Linked DNA regions of Homo sapiens: region 2 is linked to region 1. The links come from fine-mapping of genetic effects on gene expression. A gene starts in region 1. The other region holds a variant in brackets. All regions are shown on one strand. Distances are between the middles of the regions. Region 1 holds the start of LINC03007 (long intergenic non-protein coding RNA 3007). Region 2 has its middle 64 kb from the start of LINC03007.

Region 1 (9,076 bases):
AAAGATAATAAAAGGAAATGACTATATAAGTATTAATAAAAGCAATTTTTAAAAATAAACAACAGTTTTTTTTTTTTTTAAATAGAGACAGCGTCTTTTTCTGTCACTCAAGGTGAGGTGCAGTGGCACAAGTATAGCTCACTGCAGCCTTGAACTCCTGGACTCAGGTGATCCTCCTGCCTTAGCTCCTAAGTATCTGGGACTTGAGGCACATGCCACTACACCCAGCTAATTTTGTTTTTTAGAATTGAGGTCTTGCTATATTTCCCAGGCTGGTCTCCATCTCCTGGCCTCAAGTGATCCTCCCACATCAGCCTCCTAAAGTGCTGGGATTATAGGCATGAGCCATCATGTCAGGTCAAGAATAGCTTTTTAAAAATTGACACATAATAGTTGTACACCATCTGATACAGTCTACTATAAAGCTATTTGAGCATGACGACATGGTGTTAATGTAAAGTTAGAGGGATAAATCAACAGAACAGAATAGAAAGTCCAAAAATAGACCTACACATATATTGTCAATTGATTTTCCACAAAGATGCCAAGATAATTCAAAGGAGAACAAACAATGTTTTCAACAAATGTTGCTGGAACAATTTGAAAGCTATATGCCGACCGGGCATGGTGGCTCACGCCTGTAATCCCAGCACTTTGGGAGGACGAGGAGGGTGGATCACGGGGTCAGGAGATCGAGACCATCCTGGCTAAGAGGGTGAAACCCCGTCTCTACTAAAAAATACAAAAAATTAGCCGGGCATGGTGGCTGGCGCCTGTAGTCCCAGCTACTCGGGAGGCCGAGGCAGGAGAATGGCGTGAACCCAGGAGGTGGAGCTTGCAGTGAGCCGAGATCACACCACTGGACTCCAGCCTGGGCAGCAGAGCGAGACTCCATCTCAAAAAAAAAAAAAAAAAAAAAAAAAGAAAAGAAAGCTATATGCCAAAAAATAAAAAAATCAAACCTTGACTCCCACTGGCTCTGTGACCTCACCAAGTCTCATTTTGAATTGTAACCCCCACATGTTGGAGAAAGGGCCTGGTGGGAAGTGACTGGATCATGGGGGCAGATTTCCTCCTTGCTGTTCTCGTGATAGTGAGTGAGATCTGGTTGTTTAAAAGTGTATAGCACTTCCCCCTTCGCTCTCTCTCTCTCTCTCTTCTGCTTGGCCGTAGTAAGACGTGCTTGCTTCCCCTTCCCCTTCCGCCGTGATTGTAAGTTTCCTGAGGCCTCCTATCCACGCCTTCTGTACTGTCTGTGGAACTGTGCGCCAATTAAACCTCTTTTCTTCATAAATCCAGTCTCAGATATATCCTTATAGCAGTGTGAGAATAGACTAATACACTTTACTAGGAAAAAAAGAGAAAATGTTATGACCCTGTGATGGGAAAAGATTTGTTAGTACACAAGGAAGAGTCATTAAAAATGATTAATTGGACATCATCAAAATTTTTAATAAAATCTGCTCTTCAAACATGTTCAGAAAGTGAAAAGCCACAGAGAGAAAATAGTTGCAAAATACATATCTAGCAAAGGAACTGTGTCCAGAATATATAAAGAACTCTCAAAACTCAATAAAATAAAAAATAATTCTAAAAAATGGACAACTTATTTGAATATGTATTTAACTCAATGAGAGCATATAAGTACCTGAAATGATGCTTAAGATCGTCAATTATTAGGGAAATGGCAAATCAAAACCATGATGAAACACTACCACACACTTACAGAAAAGCTAAATTTTGGGGGGGATTTTTGGGTGTTGTGATTCTTCTTTTCATATTATTTCTTTATTGAAAATAAAGATTGTATATACTTATGTAAAAAAAAGTTGTTAAGGGAAAAACAATTGCATCATTTACACAATTTATTTGGCATGTGATTATGGGTTATGCTAAAAAGTCAATATAGTATAATTTTTATCAAATAGTTTATTCCTCTATTTAATGCCATTCTTCTCTGCAAATGTGTTTGTAGTATTAATTTTATATCAAATTATTTATAAACAATAATAAATTACAATGTTCTGGAGCACCTAACTTGCCCTAACCCATTTAATCTTCACCCAAATTCCCATTTTACAGATAAGTAAACCAAGGCTGGGAGAGTTAGGAAGCTTTCCCCAGTCACATGATTAGTAACGAGAAAAGCTTGAATTCAAACTGGGAAGTCAGGCTACAGAGCTGGCATTCTGACTACTTTAATGACAAAAGGAAATTTCTGTTTAGTCTGTGCTTCTCCATGTGCACAGGTCACAGGACCACAGATGATAAACCAAACCAAATCCATGTTACTTGTAATACACATTATGCTATATATTCTTAAATAAAATTTATTCATCAAAGATTAAGATGTTAAAGATGGCAACAATAGACACTGGGAACTACAAGAAGGAGGAGGGAGGGAGAGAAGCCCGGGTTGAAAAACTGTTGGGTACTATGCTCACTACCTGGGTGATGGGAACATTTGTACCCCAATCCTCAGCATCATGCAATATACCCACGTAACAAACCTGCACATGTATCCCCAAATCTAAAATAAACATTGATACTATAAGGGGAAAATGATTAAGATGTAATCATTATGGTAAATATCTTAGGGTGTGGGAGGGTCATAGCAAAACAAGATCAGGTCCTCTCCCTTAAGAAATTTATAATTTGCTTGAGGAGATAAAACATGTAAATGGGAAACATTTTTTGAAAACCCAGTAAAAGCAAAGCCACTAGCAGCCCTATTTAAATGTGCTGGCGAACAAGAACCAAAATCATGTCCTGGCTGGCTGGGTTTAGCTAGGAAAGCTTTTGAGAGAAGGGACACACATGGATTAGCGAAAGCTGGAGGGAAGGCTTTAACAATAATAAACCCTGGGAATTATAGCTAACATTTGTTTGTGTTACCATGTTCCATTCACTCTGCCAACTCCTCCATGTGCATGATCTCATAGAACCCTCACCATAACCCTGTGAGCCAGGTACTATCGTTATCCTCATTTTAAAATATAGCGAAACTGAGTCATAGAGAAGGTTAGGCCACATGTTCAAGGTTACTCAGCTAGTAAGCAGAATGGGGATTCATACTAAAGTTGGCTGACCCTAAAATCCAAGTTCCCAACACTATGCCTGGGGTTTATCCCATTTAAAAAATGTTAAGCTTTGTCATGTACCAAATACACTGGTAGGACAGAAAGAGCATTTACAGGGTTCTAGATGTGAGAAGGTACTCTCGGGGGCTCAGGTGACTGAGTGCATGTGTGTTGAGTTCCTGCACTCAGGTGACAGAGTAGTTGACCTGGCATGGGGCATTTACAGACATGAGGAGCTCAGCATGCCCCACACCAGGAAATTCCCAGTGTCCATTTTGTCCAAGCCTGATAATTGCAGTAATTTCCACAGGGTGTCTTTCCTGGGGCCATACGTTATCAAGGTACTGCCAGCAAAGTGAAGGTTGGACTATAAAGTGGCAGTCTAATCTTAAACCAGTGAAACAGCAGGGAAAAACGTTCACAGAGTTTGTTCACATCAGCATAATCTCAGTGAATCATCCCCAAGGACAAGCCCAAATGAGCAGGAAAGGCATGTGGATGAAATATAATCATCAGATGCAGTGGAAAAGACATGAGAAACCAGCGAAAGCAGCTGAATGACATTTTCTGACCAACCTTTGGTCATCGTTTTGGCTAAGCGTCCACAGGCACACCCAAAGTCCCTAAGTCCTGGGAGCCCACAAGGAAGAAACAGGATGTGTGCATGTTTATTTTGTGTGCACGCATGACTGTGTGTGTATGTGCGTGTTTAAATTCATGGCCAGCAACTCTGTTGTATGTGTTAAATGGCTGAAAGTTAGGAGAGTGCCAGGCTCGGCTTTAATTGGATTTTCTAAAGCATAAATAAAAGGTAGGGAAGGGAGATGCATTCTTTGATGGATGTCTTCCCTCAAGTGTGCACAGCTGGCTGAGTCCCTCTCTTGCCTAATTAAGGGGCTTTATTCTGCTCACGCTCAGAGCTGCTGCCTGCATGCTTGTCTGGAAGCCGACATCAAGCCCATTTGGCCAGAAATACCTCTAGAGGTGGAACTGGCCCAGAAGACTGGACCCCCAGAGTGCTATGGAATGTCTATGGGAACAAAGGAGGACCTAATGGACAGCAGAGAAACACGATGCCCAGCTCTGGTCTGGTAGGAGGTCCCTAGAAGAATGGCTTCAAGTGAGACTTAGAAATACACCCAGTCGGTTAGCCTTTGGGAAGCGTAATGAGTACTACCTCCAGTAGTTTTTGAAGGTCAGCCTTTGTTGTGAAGGGAGGTGGGATAGGGGTGGGCTTTCAGGGGCTGGGAGAAAAGAGAAACCATCCTGCCGTCTTGCCCTCTACTGTCCATTTTCCTCACCAGGACCAGGTATAAGGGAGGCAAGTTGGGCAACGAGGGAGACAAAATTTCAGGAGCTGCTCACTGTTGTGTACTTGCAGTACTGTAGCCACAGGGATCTTTCAAACATGCATACATGAGTGTGTCAAAGACAGAGACCAAATGCCTTAACAGGGCTCTGTCAACCTGGGGATCTCTCGAATGTAAAATTCAGATTATAGGTCAGAAGGGAGAGTCTGAGAGTCTGCCTTTCTAATGAGCTGCCAAGGTGATGCTGATGCTGCTGGCCTGGGGACCACAGAACAGTGAGGGTTCAGGTGCCAGCAGAGTCAGGATGTCAGCTGGGTCTGACCTACAACCTGTTTTTGTAAATAAAGTTTTATGAAAACACATTCATTTACATATTGTCCATGGGTGCTTTCTAGTTACAGCAGCAGAATTGAATAGTTGCAACAGAGTGCATGACCCATAAATCCTAAATTACTTACTGTCTGTCCTTTACAGAAAGGTTTGTTGATCCCTCTTTATGAAATCTGTCTTTGTTTATCGCCTGTTAATTACATTTCAGCCAAAAGCCATGCACTTTCCTTTCTGGGGCTTTGCAATTAAGATTGCCTCTGCCTTGATGTTCTGTCCTTTCTCTTTTAAACTTTTGCCTTGCTTCTCTGATCTCAGCTTAGATGTCATTTCTTCCATGATGCCTTGCTTGACTTCCAAAGACTGAGTTAAGTGACTCTCATATATGCTTCCAGGGAGTCTCAAACTTCCCATTGTGACGTGAATGGACACTTATTGCCCTAAATGGTGATTGCCTATTTCATCATCTAGATCTCCTGTTAGACCATAGGCTTCCTGAGGAGAGACCATACCTGTTAACTATTGAATCCCAAGCACCAGGCACACAGTGTTCAGTTTTAAAGTTGATGACTTTATGACAACTTTAGAACCTTTCTTATGTTTAAGCACTCTGAATGGAGAGACATCTTGAGATTCCAGAGAAATTCAATCTAATCTACTTACCAATACTGGTTTCTTGGAAGAGGATAAAATATTCAACAATGTCATCACACTCACCCAACACCACTCATGCTCACACACAAACACACACACACAGCTGCTCTTGGCTCTCATTTCTGGGTTAGGCAGAGAACTTACATACATTTTGAGATTAAAATCCTTGAGCATTTAAGAATGGACCTATTTTTTTTCTTAAATCTTCTGCACTGAGGCACTTTAGAGCTGTGGTAGAAGTTTCAACAGGAGGAGAGTAAAACTCTGTTTATAATGATTCTTGGATTGTATTTATTCCTGTTCTCCTTTAATAGGGAGAATGGAACTCCAGTTCAAGGGGCCATTTCAGGAAAATAATCAGCCATTAGGTCAACTGCCTCTTTCAAGAGAACAAGCAGTGGTTTACAAAGCTCATTTCCACTCAGTGGGGCCAGTGGAATCTTGGGTGAAAAGCCAAGGTCTGCCCAGTGAAAGCTGTGGGCTGGTCTGGGGTCTGGCTGCTATAGACAGGTGTCTGTAATTGCCTCAGGTTCTTTCTTGAACACTGCAGTATGCGCTTCCAAGGTGGCCCTTCTGCAGTATGCAGGAGGTGTCTAGTGGCAAGGCTTAAAGACTTTAAGCCAACCGTTGATTGAAGGTTTATAAGATTATCTTGATGAGATGGTCTGAGCTAACCAGATGCCTATCAAACCAATGATTCTTCAATTCCTTCCTGAGATGTTTAAACCACTGCCACAATGTTTGCACATCATGAGGCATTTACCTCTTTTCCTCACACTCTTTATTTCTGTTCATTTATGGTCAGTTCCACCAGGCCTCATTCCCTCAAGTTCGTCGTTAACTATCAGAACCTATGTGTGTCCAGGACCACTGCTTTTTTGTTATCACAGATGAGTGCTTATGACTTTTTAATATCATAGGCATTTCCTCTGCAATCTCTCTCACTTTCTTTTTGAAGTGAGAAAAAAGCTGCTTAGGAGAAATTATGTAACTCCAGAAACAAGAGCCAGCATTGGAGACATCCTGTGACAGTGAAAAGCCAAATTCCAGATGTTGGGTTTTGATTCTCCAAAGAAATGTGTTCAAGGAAGAGAGGGATTGGAGTCAGATCAGGAATTCATTAGAGATCTGCTGACTTCCCTTCCTGCACAGTTAAGTGCTCAGTATACGCAGCTGACACAGGCTTTGGGGGACAGGGCTGAGGTGGGCAGCACCCTGGGCCCTAGCTGCCCAGCAAGCTGCAGGCCTCTGTCTTTCAGATGCCTGGGACATTTTCCCTCCTGATGCTCTCAATAAATGTTTACTGCAGGACATCTGAGGCAGGACATACAGGACAAGGTTCTTGGAGGAGATGTAATATTATTTATTTTCCTTTGTGCCAGTCTGAATATGTCAAGTGAGTAATTTCTGGACTTTTGTGAAGTTTGACCTCTTTTTCTCTTTTTTTATGTGAAGTAGTTGCTTATTTCTCTGTTTTGGTTTTGTCATAGCTGGGATTTTTCAGGCCACACACAGACATACTTTTTAGTTTTGGCAAGGAGTAAACGGCCAAAGCTCATAAATTACATTCATAAATATTTAGTGTACTTAGATGTGCTGAGGATTTTTAAAGGAAAGGAAAGAAAACCAAGGCTGGGTAAAAATAAGCTTTAGCCAGAGAAAAACAAAATCCTTTCTTGTTTGAAAACTTGAAAGCAGTCACTGAGAAACAAAAATGAACTTTGGAAGTGTTCAAAGGAATCGTATTCTGCTCCCAATATAATAGCAAGGAAAACATCTCTTGATTTCAATAAAATTTTGGATTATGTGCTCCACAATGACAGGGTGAAGAAATGGTTGCATTTAAGAGTCAATGAATCATGGAGAAAAAGAAATGATGATCCTGGAAGCAGCTAATGATCTAATATAGAGCTGCTCTGGGTCACACAGTGGGTAGGAACCAGGGAATCTGGCTTCTCATCTTCCATTCTTTGGGGGGAAGCCTGCATTGTCCTCCGGTGTCTGGAAGAGACTTAGGTGTAACCCACTTTGAGAGACACTAAAGTACAGCCATTTGGATATATCAGAATGAGACAGGAATGATGCTTGCGTTGGCAAGATTCTTCACTTTCTAGGAGTGTATTCATCCCTAGATTTGTCTAGTAGCTGCTCTAGTACATTTAAAATAAAATTGAATTTCTAAAATATTGATTTTTTTAAAGAAAAACACACAAAAAACACAAAGCTTTTTAGGAAATGCTCCATTGCATAAAGAGAGATGTTCTTGTGCTAGCTAATTTCCTCTCAGCTTTATGAAGCTATCGGCATTGACATCATTTTGTCATTTTCCTGCTCAAAAACCTCCTGTGCCTCCCCATTGTCTATTGCAAGGTTTCTCAACCTTGGTGCTATTGACATTGATGTCATTGATTGGGTGGTTTATAAGCAACAGAAATTTATTTCTCATGGTTCTAGAGGCTGGGAGGTCCCATATCAAGGTGCCAGTAGATTTGGTGTCTCTTGAGGACCCACTTCCTCACAGACAGCCAACTTCTAACTCTAACCCCAGAGGGTGGAAGGAGTGAGAAGTCTCTCAGGTCTCTTTCATAAGGGCCCTAATCTTATTTGTGAGAGCTCCACCTTCATGACCTAATCACCCCCAAAGCCTCCACCTCCTAATACCATCATCTTGTAGGGAGGTGAGGATTTCAACATAAGAATTTTGGGGGGACATAAACATTCAGACCAAATTACATCCCCACTGAGTCATGACAACCAAAAATGTTTTTGGGCATTGCCAAATGTTCCCTGGAGGGAAAAATCAGTCCTGTTTGAGAAACACTGGTCTACTGAATAAAGAGTATAGATCTTTCCTTCTCCATTAATCTCCACCTCCCTCATCCTCTCCTTGAGGCATGTCTGCCTCCCAGTCCCCAGACATTTGTTAATGCCCTTTAGTTCTTTGTTCCTGTGTTTTCCCCCACTTGAAATGCATTTCCTCTTGCTTGTTCCTATCTAAACCTTACCATACCTTCAGAATACATTTCCAGTCCCAACTCTTTCGGCATTCCCAACCCCATTTGCTTTCCTCTTCCTAATACACATAGTATTTATAGTCCCTCTTGCTCTTTTCGAGACAACAGAAACTCCAGAGGTGTTTAGGGCCATCTGCAAGTAGAGAAACCTTGAGCTCCTGGAGAGACCCCTGGGGATGAATTAAGAACCCAGAGTAGAGATTATTGCTCAGGATAGCCCCAAGAGTTCCCTACACTCAGAGGGGAACAGATGTTGCTGAGAGAGGACCAGGCCCAATGAGGCATTCAACTGGGTTTGGCGATATTTGGTGGTCACTTGAGTAGATTGATGCTGAAAGTCCAGATGGGGAGAAGGAACATGGCCACTGGGGAAGGATGACAACCTTGAGGACCAGCTTCATTGGACGCTGATAACTTGCCACCAAATAACCCAATTTAGGCAGTCAGTGGCAACATCAAGATGGTGGCTTTGAGATTGAAGTACCATACAATTCTGTCAGATTCCCCTCTAGCCATTCTGATAAGAATAAAAATAAAAATAAAAATAATAACAATTATTAATATCATTCTATCACTTAGAGTGATCAACTGTCCCAACTTGTCTGGGATGGGTTGGACAGAGACCCTGAAATGTGGGGCTTTCTGCTGTGTAACTGAGATGGTCCTGTGCATACCGGAAAAATTGGTCACC
Region 2 (9,076 bases), 65 kb before region 1:
GGGACCTCCTCGGGACTGGAGGCGGATCCTCCACGGGTCCCCGGCCAGGCCCATCCTCCTCGCAGCGCGCCTGGTGCGGCCGTACCAATTCCGCGCCGTGCAGCCTGGAGTTACAGGCCCCGACCGAGCCAAGATCTGAGGCTGCCGGGCCCTCCCTGTTTACTGGGGGCTCTGCTACCGGAAGTCATTTGACAAATCTCAGGCAGGCCTTTCTAATCTTTACTGCTCGGCAGAGCTTTGCAAATCTCTAAACACGCTGTAACCTTCTTCAAACAGCACGCCAGACACACTTGAAGGTTTTTTTTTTTTTTTTGAGGCCGGACGGAATGGAAACTGCATCTGCACGGGATCTCTCCACAGTCTGGCCCGCAACACTGCCAGCACCTTCCCTAGACCCTCGCCTCCCCGCTTCCCCCGCACGCGGATTCTCGCGCATCCGTGCGCCCACTCAGCCCCGGGAGCCCTCCTGCCCCGGGAAGCCTCAGACGGTCTTGGGCTGGAGACTCACCCTGCGCCCCTGCAGCGGGCTGCGGGGAGAGAACCTTGGGGAACCAGGCAGGACCGGCAAGGGTGGACCGAGTGATTTATGACCCTGATCAAACTTTTTAGGAAGCAGAAATTAACCTGAGGGAGATTAGGCCTGAGCTTTGAAGTTCACGGTTTTGTTTTCCTTCAGCCCAGTTCTGCCATCAGATGGTTCTTGGTTCCTTCTACCCCTCTCCTCCTCCCCCTCCTTCGGTCTCTCGTCACCCCACTTTATCCTCCAGCAACCCCTCCTGCGTTGATTTTCTTAATTTCAAATACAAATATCTGAACACCAGAAACTGAAGTTCCTGACAGTGACCTATTGAACAGAGGCATCGCATACTCCCTACATCCCAGTCTTCTTGGAATTGCGTTTTACGTTTGAAAGTGCGATTTTGGTTTGGAGGTCGGGAGTAGAAAATTTGTATCTGTTCTTTTCTTTTGCTGTTTCCTACTTGCCTTTCAATACCCATACTTATTCCGCCCTCGGAGACTGGCCCTTCCCGGCAGAGCAGAAGCGCACGAGGGTTGAGTAACTCTGCAGGTGAGAGCTAATTTTTCAGCGCATCCACCAGATACCTCAGGTTTGTGGATTTTCCCCCTAGTTGGCCAGAAAACTCACACCCAAACATGCAAGTCCTCTATGGCCTCTCCGTCCTCTTACCTTGGCCCTCTTTATTTCCATATCTCCCTCCTCCCCATGCAGATCTCTAAAGGGAATCTGTCTCCTGCGGTTCTTTCCCGCAGGCGCCTGCTGAAAAGGCAATTTCCTTGGGGGTGTGCCTAGGGAGAGAGGAAAACAGAAACCAGGATTGTTTGGGGGCCTGAAACCATCCAAATTTTATTGCATCCGCTACAAAGTCAACTAACTCTTAATGAGCATCCAAGCGGAAAAAGGCCGAAGTTTACTCCGTGTTAGGGCGGGGAATGGGGGTGGGGGTGATGGGAGTTTGCTTATTTCCTTCTGGTACAACCAAAGGTTGCAACACCTTCCTGAGAGGCTCCTCCCAACGCCAAGAGTACGGACGCGAAAGTCAGAAGGCATCGGGTTTCAGCCCCCTGAATGATCCAAGATCACTCCGCCACGAAGACCTTCGAAGTTGGCCCTGTCTACAGCTTGTAATTAAAAGGATAATGTGTCTTGTAATAAAAAACAAGACCCACACAAACAAACCCAGCGTCCAACGGCCCTCCACCTCGCCACACTCTTCTCTAATAAGGGCCAGTGACAAACATTGCCATCCAGTTTAACCCAAAAGGAGGAAGCAGTAGATCTTCCTTTTAATAACTTCCCAAAGTGTTACAAATAATAAAAAGGACGCATAAATCATCGCGGGGGCGGCAGAACGGGGACGACAGAAGGATTTACTCCTCTCTAGCCCTGGCTTCCAACCGCGCTCTCATTGGCTACTTCCTTGTGGCCCGCCCCCGAATCCGCTCTCTTATTGGTGCGTCTGGTCCCAGACGCAGAGACAGGGCGTAGGATCGGTGGGGGCTGGAGTCCACCAGTGCGCATGCGCGCTATGGCGCGCATGTATGATTGACAGCAGGGAGAGGTGTTTGTGCGCGCGCGCGTGCGTGCGTGCGTGTGTGTGTGTGTGTGTGTGTGTGTGTGTGTGTGTGTGTCTCTCTCAGGGTTGAGGCAGCGAAGGTGGTGGTGGCGGGGCGACGGTGAAAGTGGTGGCTGTGAGTGCTGGAGCTGAGGCCGCTTTTGCCGCCGCGGTGAGGTGTAGTCCTGTTTGCCGGCGTTTTCCGCTGAGTCAGAAGCGCTGGTGGTCACAGACTGCGCTCTCACCCACACTGAGGTCGATCTGGAAGGAATTTACTGAGGGGGCTCTCCAGCAGCTGGCTAACCGGGAAGGAAGTAGAACTAGAAGACATGCTTTACTCTTCCTGAAGAAGATACTTAAGCCCCTCAAGAAGAGATTTAATTTGAGCGCTGTGTTGATTTGTGCATTCCTTGTAAAGCACACACTAAATTAGCTTCACATCCCAGCCGTACCTTCATCTGCAGCACACATCTCTCCCCCAGCTCCTCTCAGCACTCACTTAGCCCTGTTCAGTTCCCCTGTAGGCACAGGTACACATATATCAGCCTCTTGTAATCATGAAGACGAGGGACGAACTTACAAAGACACCCGGCACACTGTGACAATCCTTAACTGGGAGAAAAAAAAAAGAGAGAGAGAAAGCAAAGAAAGGTAGAATAAGAGCAAGAAAAAAAGAAAAGGAAAGAAAACTAGAAAGATGCAGCAACCAGTAAAACGATGGTGGCAAAGATAAAATGCCGATGGAAAAAATCCGTTAAATGCAAAGTTTGAAAAAAACTTCCTAACTCGGTTAATGCTGTGGAAATAATTCCAGTTCATCTCAGTGCTAGTGAACGCCTAGTACAAAATTCTTCAGAGGCGAGGGCTGGCTTAGTGCAGAGGAGAAACGTCGCTCCGTTGCCCTGTTGCATCCAAATTCTCCTTTCAGACAAGTTTCCGCGGCGTGATGGAGATGGGCAGAAGTCTGGAGAGTGCTTTCCTATTATAAGCTGTTAACTTGTTGGTTTGTACTCACATATATTTTAAAGAAATAATAAACATCTTATAGTTCTGCACATATTCTAAATTACAGTGGTTCTAGAAGAATTTTGTAACTGACAAATTAGAGCTTCGGTTTTACGAATTCTGAATTTTAAAACCGGTAATGACTTCTCAGTCCCTGAGATCCTCTTCTTTGTTTTTTTATTTTGGGGTGTGTGGGTACGTGTAAGATGAGAAATGTACAAACACAAGTATTTCAGAAACTCCAAGTAATATTCTGTCTGTGAGTTCACGGTAAATAAATAAAAAGGGCAAAGTGACAGAAATACAGGATTATTAAAAGCAAAATAATGTTCTTTGAAATCCCCCCCTTGGTGTATTTTTTATCTTAGGATGCAGCACTTTCAGCATGCCCAAGTATTGAAAGCAGTGTTTTTACGCTACCACGGTAATTTTATTTAGAAACCCCATGTTCACTTTTAGTTTTAAAATGGTCTTTATGACATAAAATTATCAGCATTCATATTTTTGTGTTTTAATATTCCTTTGGCTACTTATTGAAACAGTAAACATTACGAAAATTAGTAAACAAATCTTTGATAGTTGCTTATTTTTGTTTAATTGAATGTTTATTTTATTAGGTAAATATACAATCAAATTTATTTAAAAATAATGAGGAAAAGAATACTTTTCTTTCGCTTTGCGAAAGCAAAGTGATTTTTCATTCTTCTCCGTCCGATTCCTTCTCTTCCAGCTGCCACAGCCGACTGACAGGCTCCCGGCGGCCTGAGGAGTAGTATGCAAATTTTGGATGATTGACACCTACAGTAGAAGCCAATCACGTCAAAGTAGGATGCTGATTGGTTGACAACAATAGGCGTAAACCTTGACGTTTTAAAAACCTGACACCCAATCCAGGCGATTCATGCAAATAAAGGAAGGGAGTCACATTACCAGGGGCCAGAGAGACTTGAGTACGACCTCACGTGTTC[A/G]GTGGTGGATATTGCACAGACGTCTGCAAGGTCTATATAAACGCTACATAATGTTCAACTCAATTGCTTGCCTTGGCCTTTCCCAAACTTGTCACTGGAATATAAATTATCCCTTTTTTAAAAATAAAAAAATAAGAATTATGTAGTGCACATATATGATGGTTCATGTAGAAATCTAAATGGACTTCCAACGCATGGAATTTTCCTATTTCCCCCTTTCTTTAAATTAATCCTCAGTGAAGGAGGCTGTTTTCCCCTAGATTTCAAAAGGACGAGATTTACAGAGCCTTTCCTTGGAGAAACCCGCTCTAGGCACAGATGGTCAGTAAATTTAGCTTCTTCAGCGAAGTTCCACATGGCACCGCCAGATGGCATAAGGATCCCCTTCTCACCATCTCCACCCCCACCTTGTACCCTGCAAGTAATTTAGAAAAATTGAAAACCAAACACTTTTATATTTTATAACTAAATGAAGTGAGAACATACTGGCACTGTTAGAGAGCCACATATTACAAAAATAAGCTTTGTTGGTTGTTGCTTTAATGTGAAACTTCCTCCGGAGATTTTGCCCAGGAAAGTTTGCGAGTAAAATATTCATCCAGTGAAAGTGTTTGCAAAAATATTTCCTTAAGCGAAGTAAGCACCTTAAGCACGCTTTAAAAAGGTAAGAGTAAGAGGCCGCTGCGTTTCTGAGCGTGGTGTTTGCAGGGCCGGGCGAACTTTTTAGGGACTAAACTGAAATCGAGGGGGAAACTCAGTTTCCCAGCGAGTGGTCTCACTGGAGCAGAGCCTGGCCGGAGCCACAGGGCCGAGGTTGCATCTCTGCTTTCTCTGCTTTCCGATCCAGTTGCTGTTAGAGCAGCGTTGCTTTTTTAGGAATTCATTTTGGGGTCCCTATGACAGATAGGCAAGACTTTCTTTCCACTCACAAGTCACTGTAGTAGGGGGCAGAATCTTTGTTTTGCCAACCTCGGCGGGGGATTTGAGGGTGGAACCCTGGAAAGTGTAGACCTCCACTTCTCATCTGCCTCTCCTTTTATATCTGCTTTTCTGTTTGGGTTTATCAGGAAGAGAAGGGTTCGTGCTGTCCCCACATCAAGGTCAGAATAAGAACTTACGGTATTTGCAGAGGGAGACGGGAGGAAAGAAGAAAATACTGTACTCAAGTGAGAAGTTTCACAGCTTTAGATGTACATTTTTACATTTTACAGGTCGACAGCTCTCTAGCTGGGAAACTTCATGACTTCTTCTCCCATTTATACAAGCAGAATAATTGCACACTCACTTTTGATTACTCTACCCTATAATTATGCATTTTAAAATTGCAACCGGCCTTTAAAAATAAGTCTACCTAAAAAAATCTTTCAGAATACAGCCATTAGCCCTCATTTTACAAGAAGGTGGATTCATTGGATCTGTTGTTTTGTGCTCTGTCGGTTGACTTTTATTTAGCCAGAAACTAATGAGTTGGGTGCCGACGTTTACTTATATCTCCCTCTGACATCCTAACTGTGGGTGAATTTTCTAGCCCAGCACCAGATCCTTAGTGTCTGCAGGGCAAGAATCTGCACATTTTCACCAGCCCCTGTTTCTAGTGACCAACTTCGCAGGCTGTAGGAAAACTCATCCTACCCAGGCACATATAAGCAAAAAAAGTAGTAACACTTTTTAGTTTAGAATCAACACTTCTGATTCGTTAGTTCAAGTTGAAACCATACGTTTCTTATTTTATTTCACTATCTGGCTTTTTTTTCCTCTTGAAAAAGATCGGAGGGTATCAATAGTAAAACTGAAGTAAGAATTGCTAAAAGTAAAGCAAGAATTTTAGGGGGTACTTTTTTCCCTTAGGTGGTAAGAAGGAAGACCTGAAGGAACGAGTCTTTTAAAAGAGAACCTTAAGTTTCTAAGCACAATCTTGCTCTCTTAATATTTGTCTTCTGCCCTGCAGAAAACGGGGCAAAAAGTGTTTAAACAAATGGAGATGGGACCTGTGGGCTGTCCAGGCGTGGCTTAGGACTCGGGAGCTATCAGCTCCCCTCCCGAATCTCTGCTTCTAAGTCTCTTTTGCAGCCCCCCAGTAAAGGCGGGCCCCAGGTGGGAATTTGGCGATCCCGGCGCGTGGGGACGACTGCGCTGGGGCGCGGGGCGCTCCGGGTGCAAAGGCCCAGGCACAGGGCGGCGGGCGCAGGGGCAACGGTCCCAGGGCGAGGGATGCCGCTGTCCCCAGCTCTCCTGAAACCCACTCCCGGGCGAAAACGTGGGCAGAAGGCGGGAAAACGCCGCAGCCGGCGCTCAGAGCAAGCTTCCAGCAGACGCGGGAAGTTGAGGCTCGGCGCCCCCGCCCCCACCCCAGCGCCCAGTCTCCGCTCCCCTTCAGGGCCTCTTCCGGGCTGAGTCCTGGGAGTGGGTTTCCCCGGCCGCAGTGATTTTGCAAGAGTGCGGCCGGCCGGCTGTAAATCAGCCTTTCTCCACTCCCGGGGGGCAGCCCTCCCGAGCCGGGGCGGGGGCGCGGAGGACGCGGGGGCCGGGCCCATGGCCACCCTAGGCCCTCGGCCGCAGCTGGATCGGCCGCCTCCGGCGAGGCGGCGGGGGTTAAACGCCGTGAATCCATCAATCAAGCGCACCGCCGCCCTCGCGAAACCCGGAGCACCGCCCGCGGGGCCTGCTTTGTGTCTCGCCCGCCCGCCTGCCCGGGGCCTGGGAAGCAGGGTCGGGCCGCTCCAGAGTCCGGGGGGCGCGGCGCATTCCCACGAGGGGCCGGGGCGGCCTGAAGGCTGCTCCACCCAGTCCCACCCTGTAACGGGTTCACTGGGGCCTGGAACACAAATCTCCCAGGCTGCTGGTTTCCTTATTTGATCACTCCTTTGCGTCTTCAACAGAATAAGGCCAACTCATCACACTTTCCCGGCCGCCTGGAGCCCCGAACCCTGTCATCCCCCAAAAGCAGCATGACCAGGGTTGGTGAGATTAGCCATAAACAACCAGATGATGTGACTGGGCAAATCACATCATCTCTCTGTGCCTCAGTTTCTCGTCTGTAGAAAGAGGGGGCTGTTTTAGGATCTCCGCATTTTTTTGTACAGCTCTAATGTTCTTTTGTTTTAGGTGGAGAAGCCTGAACCCTTTTTGCCGGACAAATGTCCCCAAGTTCCCTTTTCTTCCACGTTTATTTTCGTACTGCCGGTTCCTTCCCTCCCCACCCGCGAGTCAGCCCCACTGCGTCCCAGAGAGCAGCTCCAGCCCGCAGGGCAGGACACCTGAGCCTCGGAGCTGAGCCCTGGCCGCGTTTGTCTCGGAGAAACCACCAGGGGGCAATAGAGCCCAAGGATAGAGGAGCAAGGCTCCACAAGGCCTTTCCAAAAGTTTGTCCAATTTGGCGTGAATTCCTTTTTCCAGTTTGTGTGATTTGTAAATTGCGCAGAGTGATTTCAAGATCCCCCGTTTGATCATTAGCGCTAAGGTAGATGGATGCAGCCCGGGGTTCATAAAGAATGAGGCACAAAAGCACTAATGAAGAGCAGGCTAGCGCACCCGCAAGACCTAATGGCAGAACAAAATGGGGCGAACGTGAACAAAGCTCACTTGAAGTGCAAAACTTTGGTTCTAAGGCCATGCATACAGTGGGTTCTCAGGCCATGGGGCAAAAGGCATGGAAACAGTGGGCCGCACGCCGGTGTGTCTTTTCCTAAGTTTTGCAAATATCGGGTTCGTTTTGCGATGGTGAAGTGGGAGGTAGCCCGGGAGGTGAGAGAATGCAGAGGAAATCAGTTAAGAGAGATTCTCCTGATAGGAAGAGGAGGTGGCGAAGGTTTAGGTTAGAGAACCCCAGTTCTTCATGCAGCAGCCACCTTCGCCCATCCTGGGAAGTTTCTGTCTGCCTGTAGAGCAGAGCCGCATCCCTGCCGCTGTCTCCGAGGGCAGTGTCGGATGGTTCTTTCATTTGTTTCCTGAGAATGGTTTACAATATAGATTAGCGGGGCCCCAGAGGAAACTGGGGTTTGCTCACTGCAAACAGCCAAAAGATCTTCAAGAGAGAACGTGTTAGGCTGGAATATCATCTTTTCCCACATGTGCAAGACTCTTGGATTGTGTTTGCTTTCAAAATCCATAAATGTTTTTATTAAACTATATCTTTCTTGTGGCCCCTGCGCACACAAAGTACTTGCAGCATATGTAAACGCTTCCATTTTGGTTCTCCTTCAGGAAAATTTTGTAACTCCGCAGTAAATATTTGCTCTGGGGTGAACCTTGGCAAGCGATAAACTCCAAAATCTGGTTTCACTGTACGTGTTTGTGTGCACATGTGTATGTTTTAACAGTATGTATATATTGGAAAATTTGCGGGAGAGCTTGATATTTTTACTTCTTTGCTGCGCCGCAGGAAAGTATAATGACTGTAATTACTTGGATAACATTTTAAAATTAACCAAATTCTCTTTCACATTCGATTCTTCCTTGTGTGCTGCCAGCCCTTCCTCCCAAATCATGTCAATTAAATATTCTTACAATGTCACCCTTTATAATGCCTTTAGTGTAGTGATTTTGGGGGTATATTTTAAAGTGATAAAGTGCAGTTTTGCTTCCTAAATTCTGTCTTAATAATAAGAATGTAAAAATTAAACAAATCATGATCTTTATTATTCTTTTATGTTTATAGTTTCTTTTCCTCTAATGCTTTAATCTGTAAGCCAAAAAATTTCAGAGAGATAAATGGAGACAGCTCAGTAGCATGGCAGGCAGAGTCAGGATTTTGGATTCTCATCCCTGAAGAAAAACTTGAAGTTATTCCTCTGTGATGAAAAATACTTTATTTTTATGAAGAAATGGAATCTGCTGAGGTTGAATAAATTAGAAAACTCTATGGAAGATCATTAAAATATGAAAACTGTTAGCATTGGGCTGTGTGTTAGTCATCTTTAAGAGAATAATCGGGAATTATTAACTGACTTTGACCTCATGAGCCTTGACATAATAACTGTGGCATTCGCGGTGTCCCTGGTGTTTTAAAAACCACCCTCCTCCCCCGCG

The links. PIP is the estimated chance that this variant, and not a neighbour inherited with it, causes the effect.
Region 2: its variant is fine-mapped to the expression of LINC03007 in lung (TOPMed, PIP 0.97).

Annotation. Positions count from the first base shown.
Region 1 is chr7:25,784,952-25,794,027 of GRCh38, reverse strand. LINC03007 (long intergenic non-protein coding RNA 3007) reads left to right here and starts at 3,909. Exons shown (of 5, transcript NR_157808.1): 1 at 3,909-4,275.
Region 2 is chr7:25,850,074-25,859,149 of GRCh38, reverse strand. No RefSeq gene overlaps it. Among named protein-coding and RNA genes, the nearest start is that of LINC03007, 64 kb to the right of the region's middle. RefSeq lists an enhancer at 2,333-2,412 and a silencer at 7,302-7,351. The variant A/G (reference allele first, on the strand shown) is at 4,049.